Linked DNA regions of Homo sapiens. The protein of the gene in region 2 purifies or fractionates together with the protein of the main gene of each other region. This does not show direct contact. Each region holds a gene or a part of one and is shown on either strand. Other genes may lie near its edges.

Region 1 (3,653 bases), on a different chromosome or scaffold from region 2:
ATGCATGGAAATCAAGCAGGTCCTCCTAGACCTTGAATAGACTGTCACTCATTAGCCAAACACTACACAAGTTTTTACTGTCTCTAAGTTAAAAGGAAGCTAGTGGTTTGTGCTTTCAAAAGCAAAGATGCGAATCTGGTCCTCTCCTCAAAAATCACGCTGTACAAGATCCCCTAGGAAAGCCTAAAACTGAAAACCATGGAACCTAAAAAGGGAACAGATAAAGCCAAATGCTAGAAAAATTCCCTTTTAAGCAGCTGTTTTAGACCAGGTTGGGAAGGGAATTAGTTAAAAGCTAAGCTCCTTTTATGGAAGGGACAAGCCAGAACTGAAGTTCCAGAAAGGTAATTTAGGATCAATATGGTTCTGATTGGGATTTTTATCTACACTGCCTCTAAATACTTGCTTCTAAGACCCAAAAAAGAGGCTGGGTGCAGTGGCTCATGCCTGTAATCCCAGCACTTTGGGAGGCCAAGGTGGGCAGATTCCTTGAGCGCAGGAGTTTGAAACCAGCCTTGGCAACATGGCGAAACCTCATCTCTACAAAACATAAGTCGAGTGTGATGGTGTGCACCTGTAGTCCCAGCTACCCGGGAGGCTGACGTGGGAAAACGGGAGGACTGCTTGAGCCCAGGGATACTGAGGCTACAATGAGCTGTGATTGTGCCACTGCACTCCAGCCTGAGAGACAGAGTAAGACGCTGCCTCAAAAACAAACAAACAAAAAACCACCAAAAAAGAAAGCCACTTCAGCAATATCTGCCTTTGGGCAATAAGGCCCACACTGAGTAGCAAGGAAGAGGCAAGAACAAAACCTTCCTCATCCTACATCTAGCACAGAAGTAACAGACACAATCCCAGCAGAAGGGTAGAAAAATCAGTATTTTACAAAGATGAGTAGTTTTGTGCCGGAAAAAACACAGGTTTCTTGTAAGACAATGCAAATTAGTTCTACTTGTTCTCAAACAAAAGAAAAAACATAGCATAACAATCTCAGCCTTTTTGTCCTCCCAACAAAAACGTCAGTAAGTTTCCAAATGTGTAGGTCCTAACAACCTAGGCGAGCAGCAGCAGAAGCAGGGAGGAGGCAGCCAGGAAGGGTAGGAGTATAATCTTGGCTCTGGAGATCATAACCTGTGGGCTGAACAGAGGGAGAGATGAGGCAAGAAATGTTGAGAAGTCGCTGCTGCCCTGGAACCTCCACAAATACAAGTGGAACCTGAGGTCAGAGAAAAAACATTCAAGGAGAATACTGGAAAAGATTAGATGTCCGTGGGCCAAATCCACTCAAGTGTGGTGATTCCTACACACACAGAGACAGACACAGAAATAAAGGTATTCTTCCCATGTAGTGAGATACTATAAAGTGATCTATAGAAACTATAAAGAGATACGATAAAGGGACACATAAAACAGATATCACATCTGTTGGAGACTGGAAAAGCAATGTATGGGTTCCAATAACAACATATCATAAGCAATCAAGAGACTAAGAAATTTTTAAAACTCCCTCTCTCTATATATACACACATACCTACCATTAGATTCCTAAAGCAAAATATATGCAATTTGACAAAAGGCCTTGAATTAAACATCATTTCAAACCAGTTACCCTTGACTGATTCAAACCCAGAGTTGAATATATATAACCCTGGAGAATTCCTTTTTGCATATCCAACTACAAGCTAAGCCAATAAATAGACCTACTACCCCTATTTCCTTCAGACACTAAATAAACTGTCATCTGAGCTCAAGTGTTCCTTAAGAGGATGGGAGACAAGAAAGAAGAGCCAGTCTTAGAAAAATGGACCAATGAGTACAAAGCTAAATTCTGTCCAGTGCCCTCTGCTGGAAATGGGATCCAGGGACTTTTTTATTCCCACATGTATAAACAAGAATAAAAGACATTAATAGTCAAAGGGAAGCTAAGAGACAAAGCAAAATTAGCGTTAAATATTCATTTTCCACTACTTATATTTTGGAAATATAAGTGAAATTTTGTCTCATGAGCACCAATCTTGATAAAATGTAAGTGGGTTTTCTCATGATGGCCTTCCTTCAGGAAGATTAGTTCTTATTTAAAATTAAGGACCCCAAGTGTCTTATAACCTAGTTTCCTTGCTTTGAAGTCAGTATATTTTGGAAAAAAACCAAACAATTTCCAAGGCGCTCAAGTGGAAAGGAATGTAAAGTCCAACATTTCGGGCACAGGGCTACAGCAGAGAAGGCAAACTGAGTTGATGAAGGCAGGCAGGGGCCGTGACTAAGTGTTGTAACATTACCTACTCAAGATCTGGAGTCTAGAATGAAAGCTTAAGAAAGCTTTCTGGAACCACAAGTAATCCACGGCATGATTATGTCTTCTTTTAATGAGCTGCTATTTTCTTGACTGCAGAACATACAGAAGGTGGGGAGTGAGGTAGCAACCCCCTGGCCTACCTCCACCTCATCCTAAGCTATGCGTTCCTTATGGAGAATGTTTCAGGCAGAGCCATACTCTACTGGCACAAGGCATTGGGGAATTTTCTACCATTTTTACCAGAGATAAACGTCTGTGACACCAACTCCTGCCTTCAAAATGAATTTTACTTGAGGGTTATTCAATTAAATAGGGTGAAAAAATATCCAGCATAGCTAAAGTTATTCCACACCCATCACCAATGAAACAGGACTGAATTGGTTCAGGATAAAAATTCTGTGCAAGTCAGAGCTCTTTAAAAAATAACTGTCTTCTAACAAAAGGAGAAAAAAGTCCCAAATTTACCTTAATTTAGAGGCACTTCTGGAAATGAAAATGATTTGTACCTAACCCCTTATGTTCCCCTTCCTTTCTTCAGTGTTTTAGGCACTTCCTAGTTTGACACAATAGTGGACTGAATTATGTCTCTCAGGTGATTCATCACAAGGTCATAGCTTTCTTCCAAGTAGTAAGCCCCTACCCCTCAGTCATTTTGCAAACCTGATACATGAGCTCCTCAAAAGCTTATCTGCCTTCCAATAAAGATGCAAAATGATATACCACCCTGACTCATAGAAAAAGACCCCAGACTAGAACTCTGGCCACAAACTACAAGGATCAGGTTTTCCAAGATTTTCTGAATGGATGTGGTTCCCCTAGTAGACCTGGCTTCCCATCTCCCATGTTAAGGAAGATCTTCTTTATTAATCCCCTGGCTCACTAGAGATCAGGAACCCCAGTGGGTAGAATGTTCAGCTCCCAAGGAAGATATGCTGCAGAGGCACATGGCAAACTGCTTAAAAGAAAAAAACAAAACAAAACAAAAAAAGCTTGTAGTCAACAGACATGTGAAGAGTCCCTCCCATCCAATCCAGAAGCTTAAGTAATAATTTGAGAATCTGTACCCAGTAGGAAGTTAGCCCTAAGTCTCACCCAGGTCACCAGAGGGCAGTTATACTTTCCAATTCTGCCTAGAACCTCCACGCTTCAGTGCAGGACTTTTAAAAATTAAAATTATATGGAGAGTCTGATAAAGATTTGACTTTGAAAAATTTGGGGGAAGAAAGGAACCAGACACCCAATACCACCCTCAGATAGGGCATGGCTTCTGAACATGCACCAAATGCCACAGCACTGCATGAGTTGAAAAATGAAGAGGACATCATTTTTTCATTAATGCTTTTAGGAATTTCTT
Region 2 (3,653 bases):
AATGCATCTGCAGCACATAGCAGGTGCTCGATCACTGGCTCTCTTTTCTTTTTCCATTGTAACGTATTACTAAAAATGGCCCTGATGTAAAGGTTTTGTTAGTTCATTGACAAGCATTGTATCCAGGGGAGAGGGCCTTGGCCCTATAATCAGAGAGGTGCAGCTCAGGAAGAGGAATCAGTAAATTTGCTGCCCAAGAGTGACTCAACAGCTCTTGAGGTTCTGCCCAAGACCTCCTGGTGACAAGGCTCTCTGGGCAGAAGTTCTGTAGATCACTAGAGCCTGGAGGTAAAAAAGAGGGACACCCTGGGTTATGGGCTCATTCAAACCAACCATCCCGACAGGCAGGTGCCCAGAGGAAGGGATGCATATGCATCCCTGGGTGCAAACACACAACAAACACACTCACACACACAAATGCATTGTTTACGCAGCCTCTTTTATCAAAGATATATAAGCACACTCTTGTTCGTCTTCACAGGGAGCTATTTCACTCAACAATGCCACAAACAGGGAATGAGAGGGACAGGGAGGGAATGTGACTTTCCCAAGGCCATGATCAACAAGATTCATCTCAGGGGAGCTCAAAGACAGGCTCAGATGCGCCTACCTGTGGGACTTCAGCAGGGACATACCTGCCAAGACAGGGCAGGGATAGTCTCCCTTGTGTCTAGGTAGTGCTCTCTAGGCTCAAGGACAGACAAGTATGACTATTTCCACTGCTGAGTCTTGGGGAGGCTGAGGACAGGGTGACCAATTATGTTTCCAGCATCACAAGGCCAGTATGTGGCAAAGACAAGGGTCCAACCTAGGCCCTGACACTTTTCCTGTGTTCTTTCTGCAGCGCTCTCCCTTGTCCTGGACATTTACTGGAGGGTGGTGAGCCCACTCTCCTCCCAGGAAGCGGGAGGGTGTTAGTGGAAGGATATTGGCACAGCATGGAGGGCTAGGGGAGAATCACATCAGAGATTCTCCAACTTGGCCCCTACAGCAATCATTTTACTTAGAGGAGCAGTCGCTGTCTCTTCATGCTGACAAACTCCCCTCCTTTCAGCTTCAGGCTCATGGTCCAGAATCAAGGACCAGAGAGAGCTGAAGCCATGCAAGGGCTGGGCTGGGGCAGCCAGCTTCCAGTTGGGCAGTGTGACCACCAGCGTCATGATTACCTGCAGTGTTTCCTAGAATCACTTGCTTCCTAAACATTATTTGGGACCATCCTTCGTGGAGTGTGTTTCCATGGTCCAGGGTAATTGGAATTTCGCTACATATAAACATGGCGATGAATTTCTGTTGGAAATCTTGACACGACATCCTGTTAAAAACAGATATACATCACTCAGTGACCAGGGGTTGTGTCCCCAGGGTGGGGGTTCCTATGACTTCACAGCATAGCCACTGTCCTGCCCAGAGGCCAGTGTCTGATCCTGGCTCATTCACCATCAAGCACCCTTCTATCTTTTCAGTCCTTCTGCTCCAGTGGCTGGGAGGGCAAGGCAAGGACACAGTCAAGTTCTGGGGTCTGCCGGTCACCTGGCAGCAGCTTTATCATTTACTGCCATCTCCTTAACCCATTGATCCGATGGTGAGCCCTTTCATGATCAGTGGGACGACGGCCAGTCTCTCTCTGCTCTGGGTCCTCTAAGCTGCTAGGAAAATTGCTTTTCCCCTAGGGTGTTTTGCCAAATTTATTGTTGAGGTCTTTATCAGCCTAAAATGGATTCCACACCTAAAATCCCACCTCCTACTGTGATTAAACCAGAGATACTGGGAAAGATTTCCTTCTAATTTATATTTGTCCCTCTGATTCTTAATTATTTAGATCCATGCTCCTTTCCACACATGCTAATTTCCATTGAAATGCATCACTCCGTAAACCAGACAACCCTCTGAGGAATGTACACGTCATGCTCTAAGATGTGAGCATATGGCCGAGAACGTGTTTTCAAAACATCTAGTCCTGTGTGACTTCTGGGTGATGAAGTCCATGTCTCACCCAGAGCTATAGAGTCTGCATCCTGCTGCTGTTTTTGACGTCATGCTAGAGGAAACTGGGGAGCTCGAGGGTCCCAGCAAGATGGTACAGAGGATATGGGCATGACAACCATGCATCCTAGCTTCCAGGAAACCACAGATTTCAAGCCTTTGGTGCCAATGTTCTCTTTTACTATTAAAATGTCCTGGAAAGTTCAGCATTTCATAACTGAAATAACTTTCCCACCAAGAGGGAGCCTACAATAATTTTTCATCCAAAGTTTTTGTGTCTTGGTAGAGAAAATAGGCTCCCTCTAAACAGGTCTCTGCAAAGCTATTTTCCACCTTCGTAAATGTTCAGGGAAAAGGGTAGGGATTGAAGACTTGGGCAATAAAAGATTTAAAACACCATTGTATAAGAAGGGTAAATACCAAAACTCGCCATCTTCCCGTTTCTTATGTAGCTGGCTTTTCCGCGGATCACAGGTTTCCTCCCACTCCTGAGACCTGAGCATGGACACACAAACCACAGGGTGAGATTTTCCAGTGCATTTTTTCTCAACCATGTGTGGGTCAACAGGGACCCTCTGTACATGTCACCATTCCTGGGGAGCACAGGGCAAGTGTCATCCTACCTAGGACAGGACCCAGTTATTCTCTACCTGTTGACGACTTCCAAACATCTGTCCCCAGCCTGGTCTTCTTTCCTGAAGTCCAGATGGATTTATGCTGTAGTTCACCCCACATTTCCAAGAGAGTCCCATAGTGACCTCAAATCAACCTGTCCCTGACTGTACCCATCCTCTGCCACCTCCTATTGCCTGAGCGAGAACATGAGGAGTCCCTCTCTCACACCCCCACATCCAAACAATCATCAAATAGCATTCATTGATTGATCCTACCTCTTACACCCCTCTCAAAGCCAGGCACTTACTTCCATCCTTCCTGCTGTTACCCTAGTTCAGGCTCCCTGCCCTTCCCTCTGGATATCCACCTGGTCTCCCTGAACTCAGTTCTGCCCACTTTCCCATCCGTTCCCACACTGCCATTGAAATGATCTTTCTAAAATGTAAACTTGATTATATTATTTCCCTACTTAAAACCTATCAGTGGTTCCATATTATTCTTAAGGTGAAGTTCACACTCCTTAAAGAGAACTTTGTCCTCTGCCACCCTCTCCGATGTTACCAGTTTCTTGCTTTCTCACCTTACCCCCACTCTTGAATTCTACTCTCCAGCAATAGTGTCTTCATTTCCTTAAAACACCACCCCCCCAAGCCCAACTTTCACCCTGATGCTCCCCCTGCACCTGGCGCCCTCTTCCTCCTCTCAGTTCTGTAACCTGCTCTTACTCATCTTTCCTCTTAAAGGGCATTGCCTCTGGGAAGCCTTGCTTGGCCCCCAAATGCCCTCTATTCCAGGTCTTTTGAGCTTCCATAGCCCACTGTGTTACCATTACTTTGTGTATTGGTTGCTATGTCTCACTAGACTCCCAGAACCATGAGATTCCTGAGCCTGGCTGGCCATCCTATCATCACAGGTGTTTTGCCCATGCCTTGGCATGTATTAGGTGGGTGCAAAAGTAATTGCATGCCTAATAGCATACAGTGATTTTTTGTTTGCTTAATTAATTAATGCTGCCCACTTCGTTGGAACGATGTGTTCCAGAAGCCAGTCCTTGG
Region 3 (3,653 bases), on a different chromosome or scaffold from region 2:
TCAACACACAACTACTGAGCTCTGCTGTGGGCAGCCCATGATTGGTGACCAAGATGCTTTCCCTGTCTTTGGGAAGCTTGGGGTCTAGTGGAGTGAATTGACAGAGGGAAATAATTGGCGATGTATCGTGCTAGGTGCTATTATAGAGGAGAATATGACACACGGTGAAGGCACAGTCGAAGAATGTGTCATTAACTCTGTCCTAGGGGCAGGTGAGGGACAGTAGACAGAAATGCTCACAGATGAGGGGAACTTGAATAGAAATTTCTAGAATGAGTAGATGCCACTAAACTGTATGGTGTGTTGGTGTGAATTAGAAAAAGGGCACATAGCAGGCCGGGCGTGGTGGCTCACGCCGGTAATCCCAGCACTTGGGGAGGCCAAGGCGGGCGGATCATGAGGTCAGGAGATCGAGACAATCCTGGCTAACACGGTGAAACCCTATCTCTACTAAAAATACAAAAAATTAGCCAGTCGTGGTGGCAGGCACCTGTAGTCCCAGCTACTCGGGAGGCTGAGGCAGGAGAATGGTGTGAACCCGAGAGGCGGAGGTTGCAGTGAGCCGAGATCGCGCCACTGAACTCCAGCCTGGGTGACACAGGCTGGGACTCCGTCTCAAAAAAAAAAAAAAAAAGAAAAAGGGCACATAGCAGATGACTCTCATCCAGGTGCTTTTATGCAGTGAACAACCTATAACACTGTATGGGTCCATTTAACTTGCCATATAGACAGAAGAAGGAGACTGGTAAGAGCATTTTGGGCAAAGAAGACAATGTGAGCAAGAGCACTAAGATAGTAAATTCAGGAAGTGAAAGGACACTGAAGGCTTGAGCTCTAGAGCAGCGATAATGGAGTTGAGGTGGAGAGACCTGATTTAAAAGCTATCAGGGGGCCAGGCACAGTGGCTCATGCCTGTAATCCCAGCACTTTGGGAGGCCGAGGCAGGTGGATCATGAGGTCAGGAGATCGAGACCATCCTGGCTAACGCAGTGAAACCCCATCTCTACTAAAAAAATATATATATATATACAAAAAATTAGCCGGGTGTGGTGGAGGGCGCCTGTAGTCCCAGCTACTCCGGGAGGCTGAGGCAGGAGAATGGCGTGAACCCGGGAGGCGGAGCTTGCAGTGAGCCAACATCACGCCACTGCACTCCAGCCTGGGAGATGAGTGAAACTCCATCTCAAAAAAAAAAGAGCTATGAGGGTTAGAATGGGTAGGACTTGGCAGATGATGAGGGTGGGGCAGAGGGAGGAGAGAGAAGAAAGTGTTCAGATGGACCCGTGGGCTTGAGTGACTGAATGAATGGTGTGGCACCAATCAGACCCCAGGGATTGAAGATGGAGCAGCCCCAGCTCTCATTCCCCGTTGCCTGCCTGAGAGCCCTGGTGATTTCTTTCCAGTTTCCTGAGGTTGTTCCCCTTAACATCGGAGGGGCTCACTTCACTACACGCCTGTCCACACTGCGGTGCTACGAAGACACCATGTTGGCAGCCATGTTCAGTGGGCGGCACTACATCCCCACGGACTCCGAGGGCCGGTACTTCATCGACCGAGATGGCACACACTTTGGGTATGTCTCTCCCTCTACAATCAACTTTGTAGTCCTAGCAGGTGATTAGCGTAGGCTTGAGTATGGGACCTTGATATCTTCCATAGTACCTAGAAGAGGAGATAGCATATTGATGAAATTTAATAAATGGGTTTATTGAAAGAGATCAATTTTTTTTTTTTTTTTTGCCAAAGGAGACAAAGACAGCCAGAGAAATTCGAAATAACACACTGGCTGGATGAAATTGCTTCAATCATAGACAATTAAACAATTTTTATTTTCAGCTCTGCGCGGTGCTCATGCCTGTAATCCCAGCACTTTGGGAGGCTGAGGCAGGTAGATCACTTGAGGCCAGGAGTTCCAGACCAGCTCATTACAGCATGGTGAAACCCCATCTCTACTAAAAATACAAAAATTAGCTGGGTGTGGTGGCTCATACCTGCAATCCCAGCTACTCAGGAAGCTGAGGTCGAAGAATCGCTTGAACCCAGGAGGCAGAGGTTGCAGTGACCCGAGATCACGCCTCTGCGCTCCAGCCTGGGCGACACGAGATTCCATCTCAAAAAACAAAACAAAATTTCATTTTTATTTATTTATTATTTATTTATTTATCTCATTATACACCCACACACACAGATGTACACATACATGCACACATATATATATATGTATATATGGGTGTGTGTATACATATATATATATATATATATATATGTATATATATGAGCTCTGATGCACTGAGGCTTCCACTGGTCTTGATGTGTGTGATTCTATCTATCTATCTATCTATCTATCTATCTATCTATAAAAATAAAGATAGGATCTTGCTGTGTTGCCCAGACTGGTCTCAAGCTCCTGGCCTTAGGCAGTCCTCCCACCTTGGCCTCCTAAAATGCTGGTATTACAGTATTTATTTAAGTTTTAGGTGTTGTTTTTTTTTCGGGGGCTGTTTTTTTGGAGATAGGGTCTTGCTATGTTGCCCAGGGTGGAATGTAGTGGTTGTTCACCAGTGCCATCATAGCTCACTGCATCCTTAAACTCCTGGCTCAAGCAGTCTTCTCCCTTCAGCCTCCTGAATAGCTGAGACTACAGGTGTGCGCCACTGCACCTGGCTGTCCTATGCAATATGAGACCAGGAAGTTGTCATCTGTGTGGAGAGGAATAAGTGTAATCCCACATAGGGGGATAGTCTAAAACAACATGGAGAGTACCTTTAGACCTGGATTTTGGGGCTCAGCGTTGCCATGGGAAGGAGGCATGGTGTGTAGCAGTGGTTACCAGACTTCTTTCAGTAGTTTAAAGGAATAAAAAGAGATGGAAGACTGATACAGTGTTGTTCTTTAATTTTGCCAAGGAAAGTCTTTAAAAAAAAAAAAACCCTCTGTTGTTCTTGTCACTTAACACTAAAATGTGGAAAAACACAATGTCAACAACAGCAAAATAGCAGCCAGGCGTGGTGGTACTTGCCTGTAGTCACAGCTACTTGTGAGGCCGAGGTGGGAGGATTGGTTGAGCTCAGGAGTTGGAGTCTGCAGTGAGCCATGATCCTACCACTGTGCTCCAGCCAGGGCAACAGAGTGAGACTGTCTTTTTTTTTTTTTTTTTTTTGAGTCAGCGTCTTGCTCTGTTGCCCAAGCTGAGTGCAGTGATGCAAGCACAGCTCACTACAGCCTTGACCTCCCAGGTGCAAGCAATTTTGCTGCCTCAGTTTCCCAAGTAGCTGGGACTAGAGGTGCACACCACCACGCCTGGCTAATTTTTGATGTTTTTTAGAGATGAGGTTTCACTATGTTGGCCAGGATGTTCTCGAACACCTGGACTCAAGTGATCCTCCTGCCTCAGACTGCCAAAGTGCTGGGATTACAGGCCCAGCCTGTAGTTTGTGTCCGGCCCGGCCGAGACTCTGTGTCTTAAAAAAGAAAACAAAACCTTTCCCAAGAAAGGACTTCTGACAGTCTTACATGTAAACAATTTAAAGACTTTATGTCTCAGGGGTTCCATGTTTGTGAAATGAGAAATAATTATAGCTGCTGCACAGGCTTGTCAAAGAGGATTATATAAAGAGCCTTGGTGTGACCCCTAGCCATGTCCTTTTCAGAGT

What was found.
Region 1: the proteins of CAPN13 (region 2) and PPP1R10 purify together in Homo sapiens (affinity purification with mass spectrometry; 2 studies listed by BioGRID and IntAct, with this or other methods). This does not show direct contact.
Region 3: the proteins of CAPN13 (region 2) and KCTD7 purify together in Homo sapiens (affinity purification with western blotting, with the first as the bait; one study listed by BioGRID). This does not show direct contact.

The regions. Positions count from the first base shown.
Region 1 is NC_000006.12:30,610,602-30,614,254, forward strand, and holds part of PPP1R10 (serine/threonine-protein phosphatase 1 regulatory subunit 10), read right to left. Parts: intron 1-3,653.
Region 2 is NC_000002.12:30,751,887-30,755,539, forward strand, and holds part of CAPN13 (calpain-13), read right to left. Parts: intron 2,479-3,653; coding exon 2,404-2,478; intron 1,313-2,403; coding exon 1,167-1,312; intron 1-1,166.
Region 3 is NC_000007.14:66,631,872-66,635,524, forward strand, and holds part of KCTD7 (BTB/POZ domain-containing protein KCTD7), read left to right. Parts: intron 1-1,403; coding exon 1,404-1,573; intron 1,574-3,653. UniProt on the Homo sapiens protein: May be involved in the control of excitability of cortical neurons.